3 linked regions of the Homo sapiens genome follow. The protein of the gene in region 3 purifies or fractionates together with the protein of the main gene of each other region. This does not show direct contact. Each region holds a gene or a part of one and is shown on either strand. Other genes may lie near its edges. The genes, in order: CHD1, ATRN and RNF157.

The links.
Region 1: the proteins of RNF157 (region 3) and CHD1 purify together in Homo sapiens (affinity purification with western blotting; 2 studies listed by BioGRID, with this or other methods). This does not show direct contact.
Region 2: the proteins of RNF157 (region 3) and ATRN purify together in Homo sapiens (affinity purification with mass spectrometry; 2 studies listed by BioGRID and IntAct, with this or other methods). This does not show direct contact.

The regions. Positions count from the first base shown.
Region 1 is NC_000005.10:98,924,613-98,935,046, reverse strand, and holds the start of CHD1 (chromodomain-helicase-DNA-binding protein 1), read left to right. Parts: upstream 1-6,039; 5' UTR 6,040-6,508; intron 6,509-6,515; exon of another isoform or gene 6,516-6,807; intron 6,808-8,512; 5' UTR 8,513-8,660; coding exon 8,661-8,713; intron 8,714-10,434. UniProt on the Homo sapiens protein: ATP-dependent chromatin-remodeling factor which functions as substrate recognition component of the transcription regulatory histone acetylation (HAT) complex SAGA. Regulates polymerase II transcription.
Region 2 is NC_000020.11:3,465,775-3,475,901, forward strand, and holds the start of ATRN (attractin isoform 1 preproprotein), read left to right. Parts: upstream 1-5,243; 5' UTR 5,244-5,298; coding exon of another isoform or gene 5,299-5,333; coding exon 5,334-5,743; intron 5,744-10,127. UniProt on the Homo sapiens protein: Involved in the initial immune cell clustering during inflammatory response and may regulate chemotactic activity of chemokines. May play a role in melanocortin signaling pathways that regulate energy homeostasis and hair color.
Region 3 is NC_000017.11:76,159,084-76,168,786, forward strand, and holds part of RNF157 (E3 ubiquitin ligase RNF157), read right to left. Parts: intron 8,715-9,703; coding exon 8,568-8,714; intron 8,044-8,567; coding exon 7,926-8,043; intron 7,445-7,925; coding exon 7,378-7,444; intron 6,463-7,377; coding exon 6,419-6,462; intron 5,713-6,418; coding exon 5,665-5,712; intron 3,541-5,664; coding exon 3,469-3,540; intron 2,920-3,468; coding exon 2,760-2,919; intron 2,565-2,759; coding exon 2,452-2,564; intron 491-2,451; coding exon 252-490; intron 1-251. UniProt on the Homo sapiens protein: E3 ubiquitin ligase that ubiquitinates APBB1 for its degradation by the proteasome and thus prevents apoptosis and promotes survival of neurons.

The sequences.
Region 1 (10,434 bases), on a different chromosome or scaffold from region 3:
TGGAACAGGAGGTTCTCAGTCTCAAATCACACCAATTAAGTGACCACCCATAGCCCGTAACTGTAAATGATGGTATTGTTCAGTTCCTGTTTGAAAAAAAACAATGAAAACAAATTCTCCCAAATCAGACTTTGAAGATATTAATGTATTTGTTTTTTAGATGATTAATATGTGCTAATCCTTCCACCTAATTCTTATACAGCAACTGGACATTATTCACCACTCTTTCCATGAAGCCTTACTCATCTTCAGTAGCGCAACACCCTGCTGGTAACTGTGTAACTCCTCCTTATCCAGTTCATCTTCCTCTACCTAGTCAAAAATAAACTGGAATTCTTCACTGCACACACTTAGGCTGTCTTCCAAGTTTACTTCATGAATACTCAAGACTTTAATTTTTCCCTACACACTTCACACTTAACAGCTTTAATTTTCAGTCTAGACTTCACTTAGCTCCATGGTTCTATCCAGAAACCTCCTGGGCAATTCAAAGGCATCAGAAATTCTGTAAGTCTTTTTTTTTTTTTTTTTTTTTCCCAAGACAGAGTCTAGCTCTGTCGCTCAGGCTGGAAGGCAGTGTCACGATCTCGGCTCACTGCAACCTCCGCCTCCCAGGTTCAATCCATTCTCCTGCCTCAGCCTCCCAAATAGCTGGGACTACAGGTGCATGCCACCATGCCCGGCTAATTTTTTAATTTTTAATTTTTAGTAGAGATAGGGTTTCAACGTGTTGGCCAGGATGGTCTCGATCTCCTGACCTTGTGATCCACCCGCTTTGGCCTCCCAAAGTGCTGGGATGAGCCATCACACCCGGCCCAATTCTGTCTTAAACCAAACGTAATGATCTCCCTATCTATACATCTCCAAATACATTACTATATAAGTGAATGTCATTCAGCTGCAAATGACTAACATCCCTCCTCCTCCTAACCCTGCCTGAATCCAATCCCATCAAGTTTTGTTACCCTTCCCAATTCTACTTCTCTCCACCTCCATTACACTATCCTAGTCTATCATGTCATTTCTAACCTCTCTTATCTGCCAAAGACTCCTGACTTAATTAGGAATACTGTATCTACTTCAACCCACATCTAATCCTTCTTTGGGATTTATACCTAAAGTAAAAACTTTCAATTTGCCAGTCCCATCAAGCTACCACCCAGTTTCAAATCCTTCAATAGCTTCCTCATTGTCTTGAAAAACATACTTCACTTAGCCTTTGGGCCTAGTGTCTATGTAGCCTCATCTTGTCCAGCTGCTGTTTGCTCCAGCAGAACCATGCTTCTTAGAGTCCCTTATAGATAGGATGGCCCTGCAATTTACTATCCAAACCTGAACACTTCTGAAAGTGAATACGGCCTGTTCTTGGCAAACTGGCAAGTGCACTGACGTGATCTCTCTGACCCCAGAATCTTTGCCCATGTTGTTTCTTTTACCCAGAAAGCAGCTCTTGTACTTCCCTTTCTTGCCTACCTAATTCATATTAATTCTTCAGCTCTAGACCACAACGATCACGTCACTTCCTTGAGACTTTTCTGACTAGGGTTCTTTATTATGGATTCTCACAGCACCGTATGTCTCTTCATACTATTTTTCTAAGTTGTCATTTTATAGTGTGACTGTGTCCTGAACTAGGCTTTAACTTTGAAAGTGTTAGTTTTTGCTGTATTATAATCCCTCCCTACCCTCAGCAGAATGTCTGGTATGTAATACATTCTTACATTTGTATTGAATGAATATCAATACAATGCACTGGGGCACAGTACTCTTTGCTCAAGGACCTCACAATGTAGTATGGAAACAAATGCTATATTGTGATACAATGACATGCCGCACTTACAGAATACTCAATTCCATGTCCTAAAAGGGAGGTCAGAGAGTTTTCTGACAAGTCTTATAGGTTGTCAGCACAATTGTGTCAAGGTACTCAACAGTTCTTGAGCATTTACTTAAACGAACTTATGAAAGACTGACCCATAAGATAAATGGGTTATATCCACTTACAATGAGAGATACCTTTCCAGTGACCTGAAGAAGTGTCTAGAGTACCAAGTGTCCATTAGGAATGATGAGAGGCAATACTGAGATTAGTCTGTGAAAAAATTAAGTAACTAAAATACTAGGAATATATGATATGTACATACATCTTCATATATGTTTAGTTTACAAATATATGTGGTATATAACAGGGGACTGATTTAGTTAGATTTCAAGTTTGAAGGAAACCTAAAGGATAAGCTGAAGGGAAAGATAGAGAAAATAGAGGCCTAAACTAAGCCCGGTAGTGGGAGTTAAAAAGAAAGGATGAATACAAAATTTCTGCATTAAAATGAGTGGTACCGTTTGTCCCTCAGTATCTGCAGAGAATTAGTTCCAGGACCCCCATTTACCAAAACCTGGGGATGCTCAAGTCCCTTATAGTTGAGCCTCTGTACCTGCAAATCCCTGCAGGTACAGAGGACCAACAGTATTTGGACAGCAGTGAATAAAGAATCTGGGCAAGGGCTGGGCATGGTGGCTCACACCTGTAATCCCAGCACTTTGGGAGGCTGAAGCAGGCAGATCACCTGAGGTCAGGAGTTTGACACCAGCCTTGCCAACATGGTGAAACCCAGTCTCTACTAAAAGTACACAAAATTAGCTGGGTGTGGTGGCGCGTGCCTGTAGTCCCAGCTACTTGGAAGGCTGAGGCATGAGAATCACTTGAACCCAGAAAGCGGAGATTGCAGTGAAATGAGATAGCACCACTGCACTCCAGCCTGGGTGACAAAGTGAGACTCTGTCTCAAAAAAAAAAAAAAAAAAAAAGAATCTGGGCAAGGAAATGAGTGATACAGCATCAATGCAATAATTTTTAAATATTTTTGAGGTTGGCTACTTAACCTTCTTTCTTACTCTGCGTGCACACTTAATTTTTCAGTAGAGGATGGAATCTTTGTATCTTCTTCAATGCCTATTAGATTTTATACATACTTGCCTCTTAGTATCATCTCTAACAATTTTCTGTTTGAAATTTAGCTTTTAGTGATTCAAGAATTTATCATTCAAAATCCCCAAATACAGTGACCATAAAGAAGGTGGATGAGCCGCTGGTAGATATCAGAATAATCTGGGAAACTTCCCAAATACTACCTAGAACCTAGAAATTCTGCATATCAGCAGAGGGGAAGAATAGGAGTGTCAGGCACGTGTAGTTACAAAAGAACTTTCCAGGTGACTGAGTCCTATCCCTTGCCCAACACTGGGAACTAAACTCCTCTAATTTCTTATTAGGAAAACAGAAAATGTACAGCAAATCTTCACTAGAAGATGACTTAGGATTTCATGGTTTCTATTCAGAGGACTTTGTAAATTTAAGAATCATATTGGAAAGACTTCCTCTGGTTTTGCAAGGACATGGGAAATACTGTCACAGGTTGAGATTCTAGGGTATTTTAATAATGTCCCGATTGTTTTTGTGGTTTCTCATATGCAAATCCTCCAGGCAACAAGGACATAATTATGGAATTAAAATCTTAACCCTGGCATCCAAAAAGCTAACAAAGGAGCAAGTTATCCTGTTTATGTTATATATTTCACAATTCTGGATATGTGGTTCCCAGCCTATCCCCACCTAAGGATACCCATTTAGTACTTTACCTAGTAAAGCATATCACAATTAAGGACCCACAAAATGCTGTCTTAGATTCCGGAAAAGTAATATTCTTTCCAAAGAATATGAAATTTTAAAAATGAGAAATTAAATAGTAACAAAAACCTCCTGGTTAATGTTAATTATGTGGAATTTTTCGTTAGTCATGTGTTGAGATTATCAACTGTTTGGCTATTGTTTTAGTACCACTAAGTAGAGATAAAGCTAGTTTATTCAAATAAAGTGACACTGCAAATTTAACTATGTTGATAACAAATCATCAAAAAGGTATCTTTGGATTACCTACACGCTTTTTAAAAAATGAACTGGCAAGATTGTTGCAATTTTCCACCTACTGTGTACTTCTGCAAAGCAATAAAGTATGATTTTACTCGAAATCTAAATCTCCAATGTTCAATATTTTATTACAAATTGGGCAAGATCTTTTTTCGAATAGCATGTTTGATGGCACAATACGACAGAATAGCATATTCAATGGCACAATTAGTAGTAAAAAAACAAAAAACCTGCCTGACGTGCTTCCGGAAAACGTAAAATAGACTGTATATACAGTAATTCTTTTCATAAGACAATGACAAAATGTCAGAGTTGTAATTGAGGACTTTATTAACTGAACTATACTTCTGATTACAACATTCTGTGTATGTTAATAGTTTCTCTGGAGAAATTACGGGCACAGGAAGTTCCTCTCATTAAGGATATTAACATAAAGCTTAATATGAAAAATTAGCACTCAGTTCAGAAATGACGACTTCAGAAATGACTTCAGAAATGACGATTTGTATGATCTTTTCATTCCTCACAACCCAGTATTAAAACTATCTAATATTGCAAAGGATGGTAGTGTTCCACTTCGTTTTGCTATTCAATTATTGCTGATAGATACATGTTTTCAAAAAGGCCATTGGCATCTGTTTGCTTTCTCCTACTTCTCCAAGTGAATACACCCTTCAATATGTAGTAAATACATATGTGGAGTTATGTTTTGAGATTTTTTTGAAGGATTTGAACCAAACTGTTTAAACAGCTGGTAGCCTAAAACTGGAATATTTCCCACAAGGGAAAAATAATTATTTGGGGAATGTATGTTACCACAAACTCATCTGACTTGGAAAGTGCGCCTTTACACCAAATCAAATAACTGAACAATGGGATTAGAAACTTTTAATTATTATTAACCTCGGCCACCGGGCGCCGTGGCTCACGCCTGTAATTCCAGCACTTTGGAAGGCAGTGGCAGGTGGATCGCTCGAGCTCAGGAGTTCAACACCAACCTAGCAACATGACAAAACCCCGCCTCTACAAACATAAATAAAAAACAAAAATCATTAACCTTGAGTGAGTCAAGTTCATCTGCAGACTGAAAAAAATAAAGTGTAACAGAATTTTGATTTAAAAAACGCTTTCAAAAAAGCATTTCAAAATGCTCTAAGTATGTTTCAAAAATACACTTAAAAATATGTTTCCAACACACTGAAGGGATTTAACTAAGATCCACAATTACAGTTACGATACAAACTGTAAGCTAAAAGGCAGCAACTTAAGCTGAGACAGTTACTAACATCCCTCGAGCAGCGTTTTTTGTTGCGATTCGGCGCCGCACCCGTCACCCCGCCCTCCGGGGAGGAACCTAGAAAGGAAGGGTGGTACATTTCTAAACCAGGCCACCCACACATGAATCAAGCGGCATCACAGGCTGTCAACAACCGGGTCTCTATTTTCTCTCCTCCTCCGGCGCCCCGCCCGTGCGGGACATCAGCTCCCAGGATGCGTCAATCGCAGATCGCCCAAGCGTAAGAGGTGGCGAGAGGCCACCACGGTTGCCCAACAGTTGCGTTCCCAGGCTGCCTGGTGTGACGCAGCAGCCCCCGCCCGGACCCTGAGGCCTGGCGCTCCGACTGAGCCGAGGCCTGTGCTACCCGACACTCCTTGCGACCCGGCCCCTTAGGCTTATTCAGCGCGGCCCTTCCCGGCTTCCCGAGTCCCATCGCAGTCTCTCCCCACCCCCGTTCCTCCCCGGTTCCTTGTCAGTGTCCGCCGCGATGTCCTTGCGCAACCATCCCAAGTGACATTAGCGCCCATACCCGCACGGAGCGAGCCTGAAGCTCCCACTTCCCGGAATTCAACGCCGGGCCGCTAAGGGCGGGCACCCAAGCGAGGATCAGCGGACTAAGGCCGCGACCAGAGTCCAGCGGTCTCCGCGCAGTCAGAGTCCGACAGCCTCTGCGCATCCGCCGTGCGCACTCCCATTCGTGCGCGTGCGCGCACTCGCCCCCCCCGCCCCGCCCCAGCACCAATCGCTTTTTTCCTACGCCCACGACCCTTCAACGTAGTCCCTCCCGCCTCCCGCGCGCGAGCAGAAAGGCTTCGGCGTGCGCGCGCCCGCCCGCCTCGCGCTCTGTCGGGAAGGGGAGTGAGCAGAGGCGCTTACGTCGCGCGGGAGGCGGAGGCGACGGCGACCTCGGTGGCGGCGGCGGCTACGACGGAGACGGTTGCGCTCGCTTGCTTTCTCGGCGTCATGGCGGCTGCCGGGGGCAGATAAGCGGAGGGAGCGGGAGCGCGCGCGCGACGGCGGCGGCGGCGGCGGCGACGACTGGTTACTTATAGCTCTTGCTGCCCTCGCCCTTGGTGCTTCAATAATGAATTGTTAGCTCCACTCCGCAGGGGATCGCGCGTTGGTGCTGCGGACCGGGGCTTCCCCTTCCCCTCCGCGTCTGTCCCCTTCCCCCTCCCCCGCACGGACTCTTGCTTACCCCGAGACGCCGGAGCCCTAGGACTGGGCGGCGGAGATCCCGGGCCTGGGCGCGGGGGAGGCCGTCCACCCGAGTCGGCTCCCTCCGCCCCGCCAAGCCCGCCGGTAAGAAAGGGGGCGGCGGGCGGGTCAGGATGTGGCGGAGAGGACAGGAACCGGCCGGGCGGAGGGCGGGCGCGGCGCGGTGCCCAGGCGGCGGCCCAGCGGCCGGGTGAAGGCCGGGTGGCTCTGTGAGTGCCGGTGGCGGTGTACGGGCCTGGCGCGCAGGGGGCGTGTGAGCGGCGAGTACAGGCCGGGGCCGCAGAACGCATCCTTGCGCCGGCCCGGCGGCCCTGCCCCGGCCTCTTCGGCTTGGTGCCGACCGGGCCGCGAGAGGAGACCCGCGAATGGCTAGCACTTAGCCGGTGCGTGGGTCCTGCCGCGACCCGGGCTCCCAGCACGTGGGGAGCGGCGGGAGGGGGAGGGGGCGGCGGCTCGGGCGAGCCTGGGAGGGCGCGGGGCGGGTCTGCGGGAAGTTTGAGGCGGGAAGAGGGACTCCTGGACCGGGATGGAGGCCCTGGGAGAGGGGGGCAGGTCCGCGAGGGAGGCTGATTGGAGCGCGCTGGATGGATGAGTGAGGATGGTTTCCAAACCTCTTTCGAGTGCCGCTTTAAAAACTTAGCAGGAGCAAAGCAACTGCTAAAAGACAGAGGATTGAAGAGGTTTAATAACTTAGGGTAGTCATTGTGGAGACGCTTGAGAGGACACAGCGCTGTGTGCGCTTGGAGCTTCAGAACTCAGGGTTGTGAAAAGGGTCTCAGAGGACTTATTCGGATAAGGGAGATGGAGGGGAAAGGAAGTTAAAATGTACAGAGAAAGCCATTTTGAGGGACGAAAGGAAGGTGAAAAGGAAAGAACGAAAAGGGGAGTGAACTTTTTAAAGGAAGAAACGGGAAAGGCAGTTTGTTAACATACTTAGATTTTTTAAGACTTAATTGTTCAGTAAGGCACTTTGACTAGGGTTGAGATTAATATTTAACATTAGGAATAAATGTTGAGTAGAACGGTTACTTTTTAGATAACCTGTTCTTGCAGAGTCTACTGGACAGTAGTCTAGAGAATTAACATCCTGATCCAGATGCAGACTTTGCTATCATTGAGTTGGTAACAATCTGTTTCCCTCCCTCTCTTGTGGAATGGAAATAATCGTAGGAGTGAATTCTCTTTGCTGAGGTCGGAGGACAGCTCTGCTCTCAGTTGGCTGTCTCGGTACTTTCTGGCTGGGGAAGGATCTGACGTCTCCTTCCCCCGCTTCTTCCTCTCCCTCCCCTGCCAGAGATCTCCTTTGTTTATTCGTGGATGGCTTGTAGGTGATTCTTCAGTGTTGTACTGAAATCTTTAAAGGTGGAAATGGTGTGTCTTGGTTCATTATTCTTGCCCCAAATTTTTTACGTAAAAAATCAGATATAGTGTATATTCTATTACCTTTTCAATTTTTTTCACAAAATAAAAACCAAGTGCAAACTGGTTAAGTATTATTTAAATGTTATCATCCCACTATCCGTTTACCTGTTAAATAACACATTTATTTTGAGCTATGCATTTTTGTTGAGAGTATATGGTATCTTTTATTTGCCTGTTCCTCCCATGGGAGCGTTTTCAGAACTTTCTCACTCAAGTGTATGAAGTTCTTGGTGATAGGAGTGAGGGCTTGATTAAAGGTAACCTCCTCCCACCCCCCCCCCCACTTCATTTATTCGACCAAGTTATCTAATAAGACTCCGTTATCTACTCTTGGGATGTATGCATATGTTACATCGTATCACCTTGCTTTAGGAGTCTATAAAAACATTGTTAGTTGCAGTTAGTCTCTAAAAATCCTTTCACTCCACAAATATTTTAATTTTTTCTGTCCGAAGTATATTAGCAGTAGCATACTAAATTCTAGTTAGCAGTCAGGAGTGTAGTTATTACAAGTCTAGATATTTTAAGTATTTAATAAAAGGCCCCCACTTCTTCCTTAACAGCTGTAGTCTAATTGGCCTACGTAGATTTATACGTTTTAGACAGGGCTTAATTTACCTTTTTTCTGCAGGAAATTTTGTTAATTTATTAATATATTTTCTTTAGGTGAATCAAAGGAGAGTCCCAGAAAACCTGTGACTGTTGAAGAAAATTCATCTGTGAATTTTTATATTCAAGGAGTCAGTATTTATATTCATCTTTTAAACTGGGAAGATTTATATTTTACTTTAAAACTTCTTGATAATAATTTACAATGAATGGACACAGTGATGAAGAAAGTGTTAGAAACAGTAGTGGAGAATCAAGGTAAGTAAGCACTTTGTTATCAATTGTTTACTATGAAGAGAGTTGAAAACTTGACTTTTTTCTTTATTGTTATTGTTGTTATTTAGTTTTCCTCATAGGTAGCAGAGTTTTCAGGTTTTCCTCTTAGCTATCCAAATACTAAAAAAATTCTGATATACGAACCTTTTTTCATAATACAGGTTTTAATTATATTTTTCATTCAGATACACAGTAGATCTTAAATATAGAAAGTTTTTGTTTACTTAAATCTATTTGGAAGTTTATATTTGAGCTAATAATTAAGCTGGAGCATGTATAATAGATTTAAATTGTTTTGACTGTTAGTGAAATTTCTAGATGAAGGCAATAAAAATTTTTTCACTCATCTTTTTCTGGCATTTTGTCTTCTATACCTGTACTGTCCAGTGTGGTAACCACTAGCCACATGTGGCTATTTGAACTCAATTACAAAATATTCAGAATTTACTTAGTCATACTAGATATATTTCAAGTGCTGAATAATCACATGTGGCTAGTGGCTACCATATTGGACAGCACATAGAAAACATTCTATCACTGGAGAAAGTTTTAGACAGTGCTGAGCCAGACATTTGTTGAAATATTACTGTGGCCCTTTTTTATTTTCAGATTGGAGTTTTAATTATCTGTGAAGGAGTTAAGAGTTCTTGCTTGGGTCAAGTGTTTGCAAAGAAGATTCTTTAAATTCTGTAGCTCTCAAATTTTGAGTTATCTGCACATTAGTTTACAATCCATGTAGTTATATGCATTATCATATATAGAAATTAGGAATGTGGGCACTGGAGTCAAACTGTTTGCTTACCCTATTTCTACCTCTTATTAGTTGTGTGAATTAGGGCAAATTACTTAATCTCTGAGGCTCTGATTTTTGCCCCATAAAGAGGGGATTAAACTATTGTTTATCTTATTTAAAGTTCACGGCTGGGCTTGTTGGATCCTGTTTGTAATCCCAGCACTTTGAGAGGCTGAGGAAGGAGGATCACTTGAACTCAAAAGTTGGAGACCAGTTTAGGCAGCATAGTGAGACTTTGTCTGTAATTTATAAAAAATAAAATTTAAAAAAAATTTGAGGATTGAGATGCTTCATGTAAAGGGCTTAAAATATTTTCTGAGATAATGAGCACTGAATATTTGCTTATTGTAACCAGCATGTTTTGTGTAACACAGGATACTATATAAAAAAAACATTAATTACAGTGATGGAGACATGGGGGTGGACAAGAAACAGGAAAGTTTTGGCAATTAGGAAGATTAAGAAAAAATGTTAGATAGAAAACTAAATAGTGGTATTTGTATTTGATCTGAAACTTGGACTTTTCTTTTTCTTTTTTTTTTTTTGAGACAGAGTCTTGCTCTGTCGCCCAGGCTGGAGTGCAGTGGTGTGATCCCGGCTCACTGCAACCTCCACCTCCCAGGCTCAAGTGTTTCTCCTACCTCAGCCTCCGGAGTAGCTGGGATTACAGGCGCTAGCCACCACTCCCAGCTAATTTTTGTATTTTTTTTGTAGAGATGGGGTTTCGCCACATTGGCCAGGCTGGTCTCGAACTCCTGGCCTCAAGTGATCCACCTGCCTCGAGCTCCCAAAGTGCTGAGATTATAGGCATGAGCCACCACGCCAGGCCTGACACTTGGAATTTTCTGACCTTGCTAGTTATACTTTAGTTTATCAGCTTTCATACATACTGTTTGGATAAGCAAGAACA
Region 2 (10,127 bases), on a different chromosome or scaffold from region 3:
TTCTGTGGTTTTATGCCACCAAGTTTGTGGAAATTTATTATAGCAGTCACAGGAAACTAATATGTCATCTGTAATTAGGAGAAATTATAAGGGATTTTAATCCAAAAGGATGGCTTCAGTTTGGGAACTTCTAATTTGAAGTACTTCATGGCCATATTTAGCAAAGTCATTTGTCTTTTAACAGTAGTACTGTTTTCATAGTATCTTATCTATACACAAGAGAAAATTTTTGTTCTCTGTTGTAGAAATTTGGGGGAGGGGGCATGAATCTAGCTCATCCAATAGAAATTTCAAGTCTTCTGCCTTTAAATTGATGTGCTCATCCCAGTGCAGCGTCTTGTCCCTTGAGCTGACATAAAGGTGAACTCCTGTACTTGTGGGACTTGTCTGAGGAGGCCACCAGGAGCTCTGCCAACAGCTCAGAGGTATAACTTTATGCTCCCAGATCAGGGACTCCTAAACACTTTCTCTTACAGTCTGCCAAGGACTATTGGAATCTTATTGCTGGTTGGTTGACAGTGGGATATCCATTGGAGCTTTCAATGGCACTTTATTCCTACCTAGAACCCTCTCAGTTGTGTTTGTTCCAAACCTTCAGGATCAACCTCTTTCACAGGCAACGTAGTACCTTACCTTCTAGGTGAGATTTTAACACCTATAATTAGAGAATTGCTTGGTCACACATTGACTAAAAGTATAAGGATAACTTTGGGACAATAAAATGTATCGATGTTTCAAACAGTGCAGAATGAGGACCGGTGATGTTTGCGGGAAAGTCAGATGGTCAATCAGATCTTACTTGAGCAGTATTCAATCTTTGCTTTCTAGTAGGTATTTGATAAACAAACATTTGTTATATGTATTACACATACATGGAGCTATCTATTTGTATCTATTGGTACCCCTCCCAAATTTCCTTTATAGGATCCTTCTTACTGCTGTGAATGTTGTCTGCTGAAAGAGATGTGTGTACAAAATGCTGCTCCCTTACCTCAAAGTGGAATCAATTCTATGGTACAATTCATGCTCTAGGGCTCTCCATAGGATCAGGCTGAAGCTCAACTCTAGATAAGACCAGACCACATCTTTTCTCAACCCCCTCCTGGGCTCTATCTTGCTTCCTTCACTGTGTTTCTTCCGAGAGCAATCTTCCAATGAATTATGCACTCAGATCCTGTTTCAGGGTTCTGCTTCTAGGGAATCTGACCAAAGACACTGCATGAGTAAAAGCCAAAAATTATAAAATCCATCTATGTCCATGACTTGGAGACAATGCAAGCAAAGAAACAGGAAGAGATGACATGAAATCAGAGAAAGGGCCAAGGTGAGTAAGATGCCTTACTTAAGTGAAAAAGAATAGGCATAGGCACCTTCAAACCATCCTGCACTAACCTAGTGGAGACAAACCCTTTTGGTCATGCAGTTGGCAAGAACAATGTTATTTTAGTGTCTGGACTTAGAGTAATTTGTATCAAAGCCTGGGTATTCTTTGCCACTGGCATTACAGTTTCTGGGACCTGGAAATGACCACCATGACAAAGACCAGTGGAAAAAAAGGGATTTCAGGCAGAACTGCTGCAGAATCTTGCTGATAAGGCACTGGGGTACAACAGAGGCACTTCTGAAGCTACGGTGACTACGGTGACCTCCTTCATGAGAAGCAACTGGACAATGATACTAGTGTATTACATATAGATGACTAGTTGTAGATTATACATTTATATACAATTATACTGTCGTTCTTAATTCTTAATCAAGTCCACATCACAAGACTTATTCTTGTCCTTGGAGGAACCAGGGTACAGAGTATTCTGGTAATTTATTATTGTGTAACGAACTGTCCCCAGTTGGCTCATTTATTTGCTTATGTATCTGCAGTTTGGGGCGGGTTCAGCAGGAACAACACCCCCCTGCTTCATGATTGGGGCCCCAACTGGGAAGACTTGAATGGCTGGGGGCTGGCTTCCTCACAGCATGGTGGTCTCAGGGTAGCTGGACATCTTTTATGGCAAGTGTTCCAAGACACTTCAGGAGGAAGCTGCAAGACTTCTTATGACCTAGCATAAAGTCCCATTTCTGGGACCTCAGAAATCCCAGTACATCACTTCCACCATAGTCTATCAGTCAAGCAAATCACTAAGGCCAGGCTAGATTCAGAGTGGGGTGGGGGTGGGGGTGGGGGTGGGGCCGGGGCCAAGGGTTAGACCTGATCTCTCCATAGAAGGAATGTAAGAGAATTTGCAGCCATCTTTAATCTATCACACAGACATAGAATGTGTAGGGGACTTTTTGATAAACGCAGTAAAGGAAAAAGAAGATAGCAGGTAAGATTTTGTTTCTTTGTTTATTTGTTTTTAGAGACAGGGTCTTGATCTGTTGCCCAGGCTGGAGTGCAGTGGTCCAAACATAGCTTACTGCAGCCTCAAACTCCTGGGCTCTGTGATCCCCCTGCCCCAGCCTCCCAAGTAGCTGGGACTACACATGCACGCCACCACATCTGACTAATTTTTTAAAAAATTTTTTGTAGAGACAAGGTCTCACTATGTTGTCCAGGCTGGTCTCAAACTCCTGGCCTCAGGTGATCCTCCCACCTTGGCCTCCCAAAGCACTGGGATTACAGGCATGAGCCACTGCACCCAGCGTGTTTGTTTTTTAAGGACAAAATAATTTGAGCATGTTTGAAAGCTAAGGAAAAAGAACCAGAGAAGAGAGTAGATTAAGGAAGTAAGAAAGAATGTTTGCTGCAGCAAGATTCTAAGGCTTCAGAGTAGCAATATCTAGTCTAGGGATTGCTGTTCTTCAGATGCACACCTTTTCTGTTATCCCTGAATGTTGGTAAAATCATGTGAAACTTCACAGTGTGGGTTCAGTCTTGCTGTGGGGAGGGAAGGGAAGGAAAGGGCTGGTTCACTTCTGGCCTGGAAGATTAGGGGGAGCAATGTCTCCTACAGCTAGGGCATGGCCTATGCCAGCCTCCCCATCTGATGGGGTCCTGCCAGAGGGTAGGGCCATGTCTTCAATTTCAAAATCCTACATGGCAAAAACATAACCTGCAAACCAGAATGTCAGTGCTAGGGCCTAGGCCGAACAATAGTTTTCCTGTAGGAATGGGGAGTATGTGTGGATGTAGAGCTGGGGGTAAGGCTTTTGTGCAATTCAGCTTCACCAGGCTTGAAGAAGATGCAGTGAGGACAGTCAGGACCTGAGTATGAGAGTGGGACCTGGGTATGAGTGTGGAAATCCATCTTAGAACCTTAAAATTCCATACTCTGAGGTAAAGCTGAGAGGCTCCACAGGTCTATGAGGGTTTTTCTTTGTTTCCCAGGGACTGTAAGGTGCCCAGATTCTGAGGTAGGTGCCATAGGAATATTCCTCATAGCACAAGCATTATGTCGGACAATGTTCTGCTTATCTATTACTGAGTAACAAACCTCTCTAAAACTTAGAGGCTTAAAATAACATAAATCATAATTTATGAAAAATTATAAATAATTCATCACTTAAGGGTTAAATGATAAATGAGTTATTTCTTAGGATTTTGGATAAGTCACAGTTAGGAAAGACCTGTTACTGTTGTAGGTAACATGGAACAGCCCAGACGGTTGGAATAACCCAACCCAGATAGCTTCTTCACTCAATGACTGATCCCTTAGCTAGGATGGCTCCACCAGCTGAGCGGCCCAGCTCTCCCTCTCCAAGTCCAAGTGGTCTCTGCACATGGTTTCTCTCCAGCAAGGTGGCTAACGGGGTGCAGCTCATGACCACCAACAGCTCAAAATCAAGGCTGCCAGGTCTTTTTTTTTTTTTGAGACAGAGTCTCGCTCTGTCCCCCAGGCTGGAGTGCAGTGGCGCGATCACGACTCTCTGCAACCTCTGCCTCCTGGATTCAAGCGACTCTCCTGAGTAGCTGGGATTACAGGTGTGTGCCACCACGCCCGGCTAATTTTTGTATTTTTTGTAGAGACAGGGTTTCACCACGTCGATCAGGGTGGTCTCGAACTTCTGACCTCGTGATCTGCCCGCCTCGGCCTCCCAAGGTGCTGGGATTACAGACGTGAGCCACCGTGCCCGGCCAAGGCTGCCAGGTCTTTTTTAAGCTCAGAGCTAGAAACAAGACATTGCTACTCCTACCAACTTCTTCTATTGGTGAAATTGAGTCATGGTTTCTCATGGTCTCAATCATGACCCAGCCCAGATTCCAGGGTCAAGGACCATAAAAGGCTACATTGATGGAAGACATGTCTCATTGAGGGACACCAGAGTAACAACTACCAGACAAGAAGGGGCAGGTCTGTGTGAGCGCCATTTCCTAATTCTATATTGCCCACTCTTCAGAGAAGATGGTTGGAGGGCAAATTGTGGGGAGCAAGGTAACTCCAAACTTTTACAGAATTAAAGGTAGGGGGTCTGGTCAGCTACAGTCCATCTGTTATCAAGAGGCCTGGCTGTGTGTCTTCATTCAGTTTATTAGGCATTTACTGAGCACAGCCTACATGCCAGGTTCTTCATTTTTTGACACAGGGTCTTGTGTTGCCCAGGCTGGAGTGCAGTGCTGCGACTGCGGCTCACTGCAGCCTTGACCTCTCCAGACTCAAGCGATCCTCCTGCCTCAGCCTCTGGAGTAGCTGGGGATACAGGCGCGCACCACCATGCTCGGCTAATTTTTGTATTTTTAGTAGAGACAGTGTCTCACCCTGTTGGCCAGGCTGGTCTCGGATCCCAGAGATCAAGTGATCCGCCTGCCTCAGTTTCCCAAAGTGCTGGGATTACAGGCGTAAGCCTCCGCGCCCGGCCTATGCCAGGTTCTACATGTGTTCTTTCTTGACTCTTGTGTTACAGAGGCTCGAATGAAGCCTGGCTTCTACAGTACCGCACCCAGCACCTCGCTGCGATGCAGCCTCCTGTACCCTTTCCGTCCGGCAGCTGGAGTTAGGGCAGAGTGCCGGGTCTCTAGGAGGGCAACACTCAACGCAGTCGGCTCCTAGGCATCCAGTGGGGCTGCAACCCCGCCGCCGGGGACGAAAGGCGAAGGGGGAAAACTAGAGCTTTCGCCGGCCGGGACAGCGCAGCCGGGTTTCAGCTCGTTCTACGGTCCACGTCAGAAGATCGCCTCCGGCGCCGCGGACGCCGGAGACCACTGTCTGCGCCCCCGCACGCACGCACCCACGTACTCGCGCACGCGCGCGCCGGCCCCGCCCACCGCCCCGCTGTGGCCCCTTTGGACCGCACGAGCCACCGTCCGCACAGCCCCGCCCCGCACGGCCAGGCGAAGCGGAGCCGGCCGTGCGGTGTGTGTGTATGTGTTCGCGGGGCGCCGTCTCAGCCCCGGGAAGATGGTGGCTGCAGCGGCGGCAACTGAGGCAAGGCTGAGGAGGAGGACGGCGGCGACGGCAGCGCTCGCGGGCAGGAGCGGCGGGCCGCACTGGGACTGGGACGTGACCAGGGCTGGGAGGCCGGGGCTGGGGGCCGGGCTGCGCCTCCCGCGGCTGCTGTCTCCACCGCTGCGGCCACGGCTGCTGCTGCTGCTGTTGTTGCTCTCGCCGCCGCTGCTGCTGCTGCTGCTGCCCTGTGAGGCCGAGGCCGCGGCGGCGGCGGCGGCGGTGTCGGGCTCAGCCGCAGCCGAGGCCAAGGAATGTGACCGGCCCTGTGTCAACGGCGGTCGCTGCAACCCTGGCACCGGCCAGTGCGTCTGCCCCGCCGGCTGGGTGGGCGAGCAATGCCAGCACTGCGGGGGCCGCTTCAGGTGAGTGGCGGGTGGTGTCGGAGGGTCGGGTCCAACCAGAGGCTGGGGCTGAGGGGCGTTCGAGACGGCTCCAGGTCAGAGGGAGATGCTGGACAGAAAGTGGAGAGGGTAGGGCCGCCCTATGGGGTTTGAGGGCCATTTGCTTCCGGGGAGATCATCGTCTCTGGCCTGGGGTCTTTCTCTGTTGGAAGGTGAAAAGGTGTGGGGCAAGGGTGGGGGCACCCCGACGGTATTTGGGTGCTTAGGTTAGTTAGATGGGAAGAATGCTGAGGGACCCAAAGAGCATCAAAGCCGATCGCTCTAAAACTCGGCGTGTTTCAGCTAAACGAGGTATCCAAGGAAAGGTGGTCGAGCCAGGTTTGCTTGAACACTTCCTTTTAACATCCACATGTGCCCTAGGACCCGATGAGTTCCCCGATGCACTGGAGATGTGGGGTGCTCTGAAGAAACAGGGCCCTGGAAATGCTTTGTTGGCTGGAGATAAAAGGGAAAGGGTAGCATTGTAAGATATTAGGGATAGAAGGACCAGTGGTCCTTCTAAAGGAAAGTGAGGAAACTAGCCTTTTGGCAAAAGCTCCCTGGAGGTGGCAAATTGGAATAGGGTCTGTGGTGAAGAGGGAATGGAAGGAGATTCCTATTTGCCTTGGTTTCTGGACAATATGAAGTTCTGAATTGGCTTAGTTTGGGGCAGTTCCTCTTGGAGAAATCAATAAATTAATTAGCAGTTATCGTTATTTGCTTCAGTTGTGCAATGATTTTCCAGATAATACAGACAGATTAGCCAGACTTTGGCCTTGTCCACAGGGAGTTTGGAATATAGCAAGAGAAAGATAATGTGCGCACATAACCCTAGTCATAAGGGTTACAGAGTCATTCACGCCTTTGACAGGTATTTAGCTTACTGAACACATGTCTGATGTGGGGGAGTGGGGAAATGTGAACAAGACAGACAGGGCCTCTGCTCTCATTGACCTTAACATTCTAGTGGGAGCAACAGGCACTTAACAAGTAAATAAATGAGAGAAATAAACATGGTAATTTCAGGTAATGGTAAATGCTATCAAGAAAATAAAAACAGCGTGGTCTGATAGAGAATTATAACCGGTGGTGACTCTTGGAGAGGGTTCTCATTTGAAATGACATTTGATCTGAGACCTGAATGAGGCAACAGGGAACTTGTGGGAATTCAGGGATGGAGAGGTTGTGGCTAGCTGGAGGGATGCAAGGAGGACTTTGAGGAGGCGGTAACATTGGATTTGAGCATGTAAGGTTAAGTAGGATTTGGAAATGTGGAGCTGGAAAAAAATTACAGATGGAAAGAAGGGTGCAAACAAAGTTGTGGAGGCTGGAAAGTAAAGTTTTGCTGCTGCCTATGTGGAAGAGAGTTGTGAGAGAGGAGTTTGGAATAGCAAAATTGTAGACTTAGGTAATATTAGGTCTTCTGAGGAACTCAGAGAACGTTGAGCAGATGAGCTCTTTAGTTTTATGGATGGAGAAACCAAGTTACTTCAGGACCACTGATGCAGTGAAGCTGCTTTTGTAACTTAGGGTGTTCTGATTTATGAATTCCATTAACCTACATGTATTTGTTGAGGGCTCCTATGTTTTAGGTTGTGAGATACAGTGGTATACAAGACAGGCACAGTCCTGCTCTTACGGAGCTCACATTTCAGCTTGGGAGTAAAAAAATCCAACAAAAATTTTATTGTAATTTTGTTTAAGGCTGTGGAGGTAAAGAGCAGGAGACAAACAGAGGACTTGACTTAGTCTAGGGGTAAGGTAAGTCACTGAGGAAGCGATGTGAAGTCTGAGGGGTGAGATGGTACTACCTGCGTGAGGGGTGGGGTGCTGAGGGGCCAGCAGGTACAGAGGCTTGGGGTTGAAGCGGATGGAAGGCCAGGTGGCAGGAGCAGAGAGAGCAAAGGGGAGCTTGGCAAGACTGGAGAGAAAGGCGGGAAGCCAGGCCAAGTGGAGATCTGTGGGTTGGATTGAGAATTTTGACCTTTAGCCCAAGAGCTGTGAAATGGCGTAGTTCACGCCTATTTTCATGACATTATAGGCTTTTAGATTGGAGCCAGAATACAAATGGCCTTGAAGGTGAGGCCAGGGCATTTTCCATTTGAGAAGCTTCCAAGGTCAGGTGAATGGATGGTTGAGTCAGACGAGGATCCTTCAAGTTCTGAAAACCTGGGACACTGTGGTAGGCAGTGGGGACCAGCGGTGTGGGAAGGGGACTTCATAGCAAGATCAATCTGTAATGTTCAGAGTAGGTACACTCACTTTGGGCATGAGAGATAGGGGGCAGCTAGGTGGGATCTGTTGGCATGGGTCAGAGCAGTGGTAATGAGAGCTTGTAGAGGTGAAATGGACAAGTCTTCCGTGTAAACTGGTTTGCTCTTGGAAAGGTGGGGGATGGTGAGGGAAAGAAAACTAGATCCTGTCTTGGGTGGTTGAGAGGACAGTGATACCATTAACAGACACAGGGACACAGGAGCAGGTGTTAGACATTTAATTGCATGCATGCTGAGTTTGGGGTGCTCTCAGAGTACACACCTGGCAGATGTTAAGTTTGGAGTCATCGACCTATGAGGGAGATTGCCAGGGAGCTCTCTCTGAGAGTCCACATGGAAAGCCCAGAGGATTGGATAAGAGCTACTTGTTGCAGGGAACAGGCAGTCCTGACACTGGTTGTCTCAAATAGTGTCACAGGTGAGTGAAGGGACTCCCCTGCTTATTGTGGACATTCCCTTTGAGCTGATTCTAGGTGATGTCAGTGCTGTTTCCTGGGTAGACAATTATGACTTTGGTCCTGATGATACCATTATATTTTGTGGGCTTTGGGATTTTGCATTTTTAAAAATGAAAGTAGGAGGAACTTATGACTCTGGTCTTTTAAAAAAAACTCAGTAGGCCAGGCGTGGTGGCTAACACCTGTAATCCCAGCACTTTGGGAGGCCGAGGCGGTGTATCACGAGGTCAGGAGATCGAGACCATCCTGGCTAACTTGGTGAAACCCCGTCTCCACTAAAAATACAAAAAATTAGCCGGGCGTGGTGGCGGGCACCTGTAGTCCCAGCTACTCGGGAGGCTGAGGCAGGAGAATGGCGTGAACCCGGGAGGCAGAGCTTGCAGTGAGCCGAGATCGCACCACTGCACTCCAGCCTGGGTGACAGAGCGAGAGTCCATCTCAAAACAACAACAACAACAACAAAAACTCAATAAAATTTTAGTCGAGGCCAAGCGCGGTGACTCACGCCTGTAATCCCAGCACTTTGGGAGGCTGAGGCGGGCAGATCAAGAGGTTAGGAGTTGAGACCAGCCTGGCCAACATAGTGAATCCCCGTCTCTACTAAAAATACAAAAAATTACCTGGGCATGGTGGCAGGCGCCTGTGATCCCAGCTACTCGGGAGGCTGAGGCAGGAGAATTGCTTGAACCCGGGAAGCGGAGGTTGCAGAGAGCCGAGATTGCGCCATTGCACTCCAGACCAGGCGAGGGTGTGAGACTCCATCTCAAAAAAAAAAAAAAAAAAAAAAATTTAGTCCAAGTATTCTTTTGGGGGCAAGAGTGAAATGTTGGTTTTGATTGCAGTGGCTTGTATCTTGATTGAACTTACAAACCTCTTTGTTATTAAAAGACATTAAATGAATACCTTTCTGATTTAGAATGGCATCAAGTTGGAGTGTTTTTTGAGCTTTTTAGTCCTGTAAATCCTGTGTTATAATTGCCGTTATAGGGTTTTTTCATTAATTGAAGGGAACGTAGGCTAACGAGGAGTGGATTTCCCTAAGGTTATCACTGAGTGCAGACTATGTGCCACAGAGCATTTTCATGTACATTGTATTATTTAATCCTCAGGACAACTCTGAGGGTGTTATATAAAATTTAGATTATTGAATTATTGTAGTTAGTAACATTTTTTCTAAATAAAAGATGACATAGAAATGACTGATTTTAAAGGATAAGTTAAAGGATGTCAGTTTAATAAAAATACCTATAGAATCTTTGGTGTGTGATTTCTAAGGCAGTACCACTTTCGTTCATTCTTATGTGAATCTTCATAATTCAGTGATCATTTTTTTCTACTTGTAAGGTCACCAGTGTAATTTTTCTTCGAAGGATAAATATGCCCATAGGATAAATTAAGCTCATTTTTGAATTTAATATTCATTCAATTCTTTTAAGTTCCTGCTGTAGAAAATGTTTGGGAGAATTGAATAGAATAATCTGGTGAATTGGATTGAGCCTGATAATGTTAAGATGTACCTTCTGTAGAAAAAAAAAGAAAGGAACTAAGCACTTATCAGACATCTGTTTTGTGCCCAGCACATACAGTAATAATAGTGGGTGGGTGTAGTAGCTCACACCTGTAATCCCAACACTT
Region 3 (9,703 bases):
ATCCCATCCCCTATCCTTGAAAGAAAAAAAGAATACATAAGAGATTTGTCTCATCAGAGTTTTCTTAAGTACCTACATACCATCTTATTTTCATCTCTTAATGGATGGGATAACCTTCACGCAAGCAGCTCTGGGAACAGCCCAGAGGGTTACTCTGCCCTAAGTCCCCAGGATGTGGGCCAGCACCAAGGAGGGATGAAGCATTTCATCAAGGATTCCGGGGGCAACAGTGTGGAGCACTGGCTACTCACTTGGAGAGACTCTTTTTGAGTTTGAGTCCCTGACTGCTGCTGTCAGACAGGCGGTCAAGAGGCGAGATCGTCCTGACGGGGGGCAGGTGGCCATCACTGCCATATGAAGGGAGCATTCCTGAGAGGTGGCCATCTCCAAGCACGTGAAGTGGAGGAACTGCTGGGGACGGGGTGAGGGGCCCGTTGAGGGCCTCCAGAAGAGATACTACTTCATAGCCTGGTGGAATATTCTCTGAGGACTAGGGGAATCAGAGACAGGTTGAAAAATTAATTAGGTCCTTTTTGTTTTATGACGTGATCATGCTACTTCTCTACACTGAAAAAAATGTTTTATATCTGTTCTTGGGGGGGTCTGGTAAGAACAACTGTACTAGAGGCAGAGATAAAATATCAAAGAATCACACACTGTAGATCCTGCTTATTGGTAAGCTTTTTCTTAATAATCTCTATTTTTTTTCTGATTATAATGGAAATTTGGAAAATACATAAAAGTAAAAGTAAGGAAAAAAAATCACCAGTAATCAAATCACCCAAAGTTACTTTTGTTAGCATTCTGGTGTCTCTTCTTCCCATTTTTTTTCTGTGTACTATTTACACAGTTTTGATCAATCTGTAAATAACAATTTTATATTCTGCTTATTTTATTATACTTTCCTCTTTAAAAAAATAGAGATGGGATCTCACTATGTTGCCCAGGCTGGTCTTGAGCTCCTGGTCTCAATTGATCCTCCCACCATGGCCTCCCAAAGTGCTAGGATTACAGATGTAAGCCACCATGCCTGGCCAGAACATAAATATTTTCCTTTGTTTCTGAAGCCTCTTTATATATGTCCCCTTCTCATAGATCCCCTAAGTTTTCTAACTATTCTCCTAGTGCTGGGAATCTAGTTGTGTCTAACACATCCTATTGTAAACAAGTTTTGATGAACATCCTTGAATGCCTTTTTTTCAAATTATGTTCTTGTTATTAAATTATTAGCTCTTAGATGATGAGGTATAAATGTTTTTAAGGCCTTGATATATACTGCTGTTTTCTGCTGTTTTTTTTTTCAGTGCCTTTTCTAGTTACACTCCTATAAGTAATACAGAAGACCTATTCTGACTGCTTCCCCGAAAGCAGGGAGAATCGCTAAAAAGAAAAGTTTTTAAAATTTGAAAGTTGGAAAATGGTATTCTCATATTTGCATATCATTGATTTTTAATGTGGTTGAACTTTTTAAAAAATTCTATGTTGAGTGTGTTTTGTTTATGCCCTTTGCCCTTTTATCTACTGTTTTATTCAATATGAACTATGGCAAAGACATTAGCTTTTCCTCTGATACACACATTGTAAATAGTTTTTAAAAAAACACTATTTGTTGTCTAACTTTTAATTTTGGTTACCTTTTAGACCTCTGAAGTGCTAAACTTTTTAGGTGGTAAAATGTATGGTTCTTGCTTTCAAGCTTAGAGAATCCTTTCCAATCCAAAGTCAACTAAATAATCATCTATAATTTATTCTAGATTTTGAATGTTTTGCTTGGTTTGCTGTAATGTTTGTTTGGTTTGATGCTCTTAATATAGTTAACTAGTTACTCCAGCTGGAATTTATTTGGTAAGGAGTAAAGTGCTAAACTAATTTTTCCTCCTGAAATAGCTAACTAATTATCCCAATACCATTCACTAAATAATAATCTCTCCCAGCAGTGCGTTAGTCTAAAGAAAGACAGTATCTGCTGCTCTCTAACTGCAAAGCTTTGAGGTTTCACCCTAATATCAGCACTTACACTAGGAAACTGAAGTCAGTTACTTTATCTCAGGCACTGAGGCCACAAAACAGGATAAAGAAAAACAGTTACTTTCTTCGAGGATTCAAATAAAGATAATAAATTGTATTTAAATCCAAAATAATCGTCCCATTGTTTCTGCCTGGGGGAGTTCAAGTTGAACCTCACTGGAGTGAAACTGCAAGCAGATGGCTCTAGGAATGGTAAACATTAACTGGACACCAAGTTCCCAAGGAGGAAAAGGGAGGTTTTCAGTATTCAATTTTCCACAGTAATAAGTTGGTTTTAACGCATGCTCTCAGCCGGCTTGCTAAATACTGCAGCATGCCCTGGTCTAATTCCTTGCTGCAATGCCACGTAGAGAAGCATGAAAAGTTTAAAAAAGCCAATGAGGCATTTGCTTCAGAGGGGCCGTGGTTCCGAGCCCAACTTACTGGATGCTCTTCAGAGTCAGATGTCTGGGATGAGATGATGGGGTTAAAGCTGGTTGGGGACAAGGGGCCCAATTTTTTCCTCATGGCTCGGATCTGAAGCAGTGCCCGGAAGGCTGTGAAGGAGAAAACAGGCAATCAGGACATCCTGATACAGGATTAAGAATGAACAAGAGCCCAGACAGAAACCATGATCCCTCCCAGCGCGCATCCGTTTGTCAGATCCAGCAGCAGCACATGCTTCAGTGTTTTGTAAATGTCCTCTTGTCCCCTCTCCCACCCACCAGTCCCCCTGCCGCTCTGGGGCTTACGCAGTCGGCAGATGGGGCAGTTGTTGGCCTGGTAGCGCAGCGTGTCTGCACAGGTGTTACAGAGGCAGAGGTGGCGACAGGGCAGAATCAAGGTGTCCCGGACATCCGAGAGACACACCACACACTCGGCACTGTTATCACTCACTTCGTCTTCAGCCACCTGGCCAAGGAGAAAGAAATGTAGCCAATGGCACAAAGCCCTTCCTGTCCCATACTTTACTGACAAGGCAGCGTGGCTGAAGAGCTAAGATAAGTAATAATTACGAACAAAATCTGCATTGACATTGGACTTTGTCATTTTCCCAGTGCGTCCACACACTTAGCTTCACTTCTTCTGGGAAGTGTTTATCTAAAATTGAGAGGACGAGACTAACCACTCGAGCTCCTCCTATAAGGCCCAGAGCTGGGCCTCTCAAATCTCAGCTGAAGGGACTTAGGGGATCACACAGATAAAGGAAAAGGAGCAAAGAAAGGGCCCTGGTGGAAACCGAGTTGGACAGAGCTCTGTGGCAGAACAAAGCCAAACCAGCCTACTTTTCTCATTTCCAAAGTGGTAAAAGCGTAATGATCTGAAATGAGGAACAAGAAAATACCCTTCTAAGACCTAACTGATTTCAGAGTTTGGCACGCTAAATTTCTGGACGCTGGCTTACGATTTCTCACTTGGCCTCCTGGAAAGAGTACATTCAGAATTTTGGGTAAAACTTACCTTAGAATCTTGTGTGTTGTACTTGTTTTCAATTCCATAGATCTCCTGAAGGAGGTAGCTGACCCCGTCTACCTGAACAGCAAACAGAAAGGTTCAAGGACAGGCTGTCTCTACTGAGAGACAAGAGTGGGAACTCCCTCCAATCTTACCTCTTTTGGTAACCAAGGACTACCGATTCATAATGAGAAAAAAAATCAAAGGCCTGGATAAGTAAAAGATGCTTTTATTTACTTATGTTTTCTCTTTGAGAGAAGAAAGAAAATCAAATATTTAATTCACCCATCATTATATACAACAGGGAACATAAAATTTCACAAATACAATAATAATACTTGCACTGCAGCATACTATTATGGACAATTAAGAAGGCACAGACTAGAAAAAGGATGGAAGGGCATGCATTAAAATCTAGGCATTTGCTATATAATCCAATTTGAGTTCAGACATTATACAAATAAAGGAATGGAAAAGAGAAAGAAAAAGAAGAAGAAGTTGGCAAGGAAAAAGATGGGAAGGGAAAATATGGATGCAAAGGGCGATAGCAAGACCTTGAGGGAGAGGCTAATGGTGTGTACCCCACACCATGAAGCCACCCCATCCCCAACATGCAGCAAAATTACACCTCTTGGCCCTGTTTCCTTTTTTTTTTTTTTTTTTTTGAGATAGGGTCTTGCTCTGTCATCCAGGCTGGAGTGCAGTGGCACCATCTTGGCTCGCTGCAACCTCCACCTCCTGGGTTCAAGCGATTCTCCTGTCTCAGCCTCCTGAGTAGCTGCGATTACAGGGTGTGCACCACCATGCCTGGCTAATTTTTGTATTTTGTGGTAGAGACGGGGTTTCACCATGTTGACCAGGCTGGTCTCAAACTCCTGACCTCAAGTGATCCACCTGCCTCAGGCTCCCGAACTGCTAGGATAACAGAGATGAGCCATCAAGCCCGGCCAGCCCTGTTTCTTAAAACCCCAACTACCAAGGCCCAATCCCACTCCCATTAACCTGGGCCATGTCAGTGTCTAAGTTGGCCCTGCCCCATTTACTTTTAGGAGCACACTCTTCTGCCTCACCTCTGTTTCTTAGCCATCCCTTCCCCTAAGACATAGCCTGTCGCTGATTTTATATCCCACTCTCCGTTTTAACAGTCTGTTGCTAATGCCAATCTAACAAGAGGAAAATGGACAAACCATCTTCCTCTAGCTACACGAGCCTTTCCATCCCATCCAGGCCTCCTGGAGAACCAGGCCTTCCCCCATGAGGCAACTCACCAAGGCCTGGCCTGCCCAGGTAGTGCCCTGGGCCTGAGCCCAGGATCTGTTTCCTCCTCTGCTGCTCTTAAAACTTGTTTTCATGCAGTGATTATATTGGAAAACTAATTTATCCTAAGATATTCTTATTATTGACCTCATTAAAAGAGAGGCGAGTAATTAACCTAAAAGAACGAACAGTGTAGAATTTCAGGTATCTATCACCCATCTACAGGAAGGCTTTTCTTTGCATCTCGAGGAAGCCCAACCCTGCCTCCTACCCAGCTGCTCTACACCCTCCGTGAGATGACCTGCCCCTCACCCACCCTCCCTTGCCAATGCCACTGGCACCACTCTCTCTCCTCCCAGTGATGTCTCCTCCTACCTCTACAAGAGTGGAAAGAAAAGTGCTGGCACATGGTAGGGGCTGGGACTTTCTAGCAGACATATGCACAAGGTGCTGATCATTCTGGAAGAGGGAGAATGGATGGCTAACTTTGAATTTTAGAAAAGGAATGGATAAATTAAGCCAATGACTCTAATTACACTAAATTGGACCCTAATGCTTTATCCTTTCGCTTGAAATGTTTCTCACTCTGGCATTTTAAATAAAAAGAGTTCTCCCTAAACCCAATGTTGGGAAATAAATCTTGTTCTTTCATTTCTCAAGTCCTTTGCTCAGATAAAGGCTCCCTCAACACCAACACTTCTGGAACAATGAAGACCTCAAAAATCAGCATTCCTTTCAGGCCACCCAAGTCGTTTGTAATAGCTTGTAACATTCAAAAGCACTCCCTTTTTTTCTTTTCTTCTTTGATTAAAAAAAAAAAAAGAGGAAAAGGAGAGAGCAAAAAGTAAAACAAAAATAAAAAAAGAGGGAGAGAGAAGAAGAAAGGAAAGAATAAAAGGAAGGAAGGACCCTAATACTAACAGTCTGTGGTCTTCAAATACTTACTACTTGTTTCTGTTTGAGGGGCTTGACACAGAAAGTTCCATCTGTGTGCTGGAATGAAAATATGAAAGTTATGACAAGGAAGGGAGGGTAATAAAGCACCAGGTATTCTTCTGTTACATCTCCCAGTTACAGTCGCCCTCCCTGATCTGCAGTTTCATTTTCCATGGTTTCAATTACCCGCCATCAACCACTGTCTGAAAATATTACATACAATATTTTGAGAGAGAAAGATCACATTCAGACTTCTATTACCTTATAGTTATAATTGTTTTAGTTTACTATTATTCTTAGTCTCTTACTGTGCCTAACTTATGAATTAAACTTTATCATAGGTGTGGATGTAGTATGGGAAAAACCACAGTGTATATGAGGGTTCTGTACGATCTGCAGTTTCAGGCATCCACTGGGGGTCTTGGAACTTATCTCCTGAGGATAAGGGGGGACTACTGTACACATGTTCCTGGACACTCTCAGAGCAGAATTATACAATCCTAATTCTTTAAAGGTCTTATAATTATCCAGTCTAGCCTTTCTTTCTTTTATTTATTTATTTTTTTTGAGACAGAGCCTCACTCTATCGCCCAGGCTGGAGTGCGGTGGTGCCATCTCAGCTCACTGCAACCTCTTTCACCATTATAGCCTCTAAAGCCAGACCCATTCTGCTGAGCTCAGGCACCCAGCAAACGGGTTACATGTGTCTCACACGAAAGAAAGGGCTAAAGGCAATAAAGCGAGGCCCTCTAAAGTCACTCACCTTCTCAAAAGTACCCAGCAGTACATGGCAATGGCCAAAATACTCTGAAAGAAACAAAGGCACGTGAGTGAAGAAGCCCAAACAGCACATCTTGATGCCCATGACTTTCTCCAGTTCCCTGCAATCTGGCAAACCAAATGTGCCAGTCTGTCTCTAGAAGGGGCACGTTATATAACCCATACTTTTTTTTTTTTGAGACAGAGTCTGGCTCTGTTGCCTGGGCTGGAGTGCGGTGGCATGATCTTGGCTCACTGTGGCCTCCGCCTCCCGGTTCCAGCAATTCTCCTGCCTCAGCCTCCCAAGTATCTGGGATTATACGCATGAGCCACCATGCCCGGTTACTTTTCTGTATTTTTAGTAGAGACGGGGTTTCACTATGTTGGTCAGGCTGGTCTCAAACTCTTGACTTCAGGTGATCTGCCCGCCTCAGCCTCCCAAAGTGCTAGGATTACAGGGATGAGCCACTACGCCCAGCTAAACCACATTTTTTTGAGACTGAGCCTCACTCTGTCACCCAGGCTGGAGTGCAGTGGCACAATCTCGGCTCACTGCAACCTCCGCCTCCCAGGTTCAAACGATTCTGCTGCCTCAGCCTCCCAAGTAGTTGAGATTAGAGGTGCACACTGCCATACCCAGCTGATTTTTGTATTTTTAGTAGAGACAGGGTTTCCCCATGTTGCCTAGGCTGGTCTCGAACTCCTGACCTCAGGTGATCCACCCACCTCGGCCTCCCAAACTGCTGGGATTATACGTGTGAGCCACTGTGCCCAGCCAAACCCACACTTTTCACATCAGCCCAGGAGCTTGGAGTCACAGATGTGAGAGGATGCAGAGACTGCCTGACTCACAGTCACAAACACCCACAAAGAAGGCATGTTGTTCTGGGGCCACAGCTGCTGCCAGGAATATGCCACAAAAGAGCAGTGTGCACAGCCAAAGAGGACAGAAATCGCCCCTACCGTCTCCTTCATCCACCACGGCATGTACCACTAGAGGGTAAACTTCTCGGTCTAAATCAAAGCCAAGCTGAAGGGAAAGAAAAGGAAAGGAAAAAAAAAGAGGACTTAACACATTTACATGGCACAGCTAATCTCAGAAAGGGCGATACTGTCAAGAAGCATTAATCTCATCTCTGCTCCTCATTCTTTAGCCTTGTTAATTACCCAAGTTTGTTAACTGAGGGCCATCAGCTGCTTTTTAAAAATGTCATAGATGTAAATAAGAACCTCTAACCTATAGATTTTTTTTTTCTTTGAGCATGGCTTTCTCAAAGTATCCTAGGCTAATGGGCTATTTCCATTCCTAGGGAATGGAAAAATTAACAAAGTTAGGTATATCCTTGATGCAAAATAAGCAGAGCTTTAAAAGGACATGATGAAGTCACAAGGCTGAAAGGTAAGCATGGCCTTCAAGCATCCGAGCAGCCCCTTTGCTGTCAGACCGAGTCCTAAGTAGCCCCTAGGCCCTTCTGAGTGGATGTGGGAAACCCTCCCCAGAGGCAGCTCACCTCCTCTTCGGCCCACTCGGAGGGATCCACGGTGTGGGAGGGCAGGCAGAACTGCTGACACACTCCTCGCTTGTACTGCACAGTCTCCGACTGGAGGCTGTTGTCTTTGGGAATGTAGCTATTGATACAAGTGGGAGGCAAAGCAAAAGTCAGTATCCGGCACAGATGGGTCTGACAACTTCCTCTGCTCATGCCTGTTCTCAATTATCAACAGGGTCTAGCGAAGAGAAGAAAGGGTCCTTTATAATCCATTTCCTTTGCTCTTGCTTGGCAACGTTAAACTTTTCTATTCAACCCACACATCCAAAGAAAGGTAGCTTACTAGATTTTTAACAGCATGTTAAGGACCTGAAGGACTATACCACCATTTGTCACTATACCAAGATGGCACAATTTGAAGGGAAAAGGTAAAGGGTAGGGCTTTGTAGAAGAAAGTCTAAATTCAGGAACCAGATCTCATCTGGCTGCAGAAAAAGAATGTTTTCCGCCCTTGCTGAGTGGATAAGACATGGACTCTCCCTATCTGGGAAGGAAGTGGCTCGCCTGGTCTCCTGATCTTACCTGGTAATACCATTCTGGAACTCTTCCGTGGCCTGGTAATAATCTGGGAAGGAAGTGGCTCTCCTGGTCTCCTGATCTTACCTGGCAATACCATTCTGGAACTCTTCCGTGGCCTGGTAATAGATGGTGATGGCTACCCGAGCATCTGTGTCAAAGGTGAACTCAACATTGTAGTGGACTTTAGCTTTACTGGCCTCTTCTCCAGGGCTCTTCACTTCCTCAGCACATCTAGAAAACCAGAGACTCAGCATTTGCAGAGTAGCATATCAATATTTTAAAATTTACCTTTAAAAAAATTAGCAATATATTGTGGGCTTCTCTGAATGATCATAAGCATAGGTCTACCTCTTCATTCTGAATGATCACAGAGTGCTTCATGACCCATGTTGCTGGGCATTCAGGTTACTTCTGGTATCTCATAGTGCTACCACTACACCATTGTGCATTTGGCACTTTTGTTTTTATTTTAATAAAAGTTATTAATCACATAGTTTAAATAGTTTCCTCAAGGCAAAAAACAGCAGGCCTTACTTCTTCCCTTTCCTCGTCTTCAGAGGACACCCCTTTTAGTGATCATTTTGGCATTTACCCACGTTTCTAAAAAATATACTTGGGTTACTACTTCTTGATTTTTCAGTTTCAGGCGCTATCTATGGGTTTCCTACTATGGAAACAAGGATTTCTTTCTCTTTCCTCACTGTGCTCCATGTAGGAACTCCGCCATCCCCCCAGTGTAGCTGCATCATGATTTTATTATAATAGTCCAGTACATTTGTGTCTGTATTACTGTGATTACACAAACTTATAATCTATGATTATTTTTCTTTTCCTGCATAACTTTTTCTTAGTGCTCATCCTATTTTTTTTTTTTTCTTCCAGTTGCGTAGTTTCCTATGTACTCATCACAAATTCCAACCCAAGCTCTCTGGGGCTGTCTAAATCTCTCAAGACGTTCAGATGCACCAAGCGGTCTATTCATTTCATCTTATTGAGGAGGTCCCTTGGACTTGCTCCCATCTGTACTTGGCCCTCTGCACCTGGCTCCCAGTCGCCACCCTGGAATCTCTCTCCCCCTCCAACATCCTGGTGGGTCCCTTTTGCCTCTGTCCTCCTGTAGAAGCTCATGTTTCCTGCACCTCAAGTCTTCCTCTGTCTTGGGTTATTCTTTCATATCGGTGGAGCACGTGTCCTGCCAGCTTCCTGAAAAAGGGTGTGTT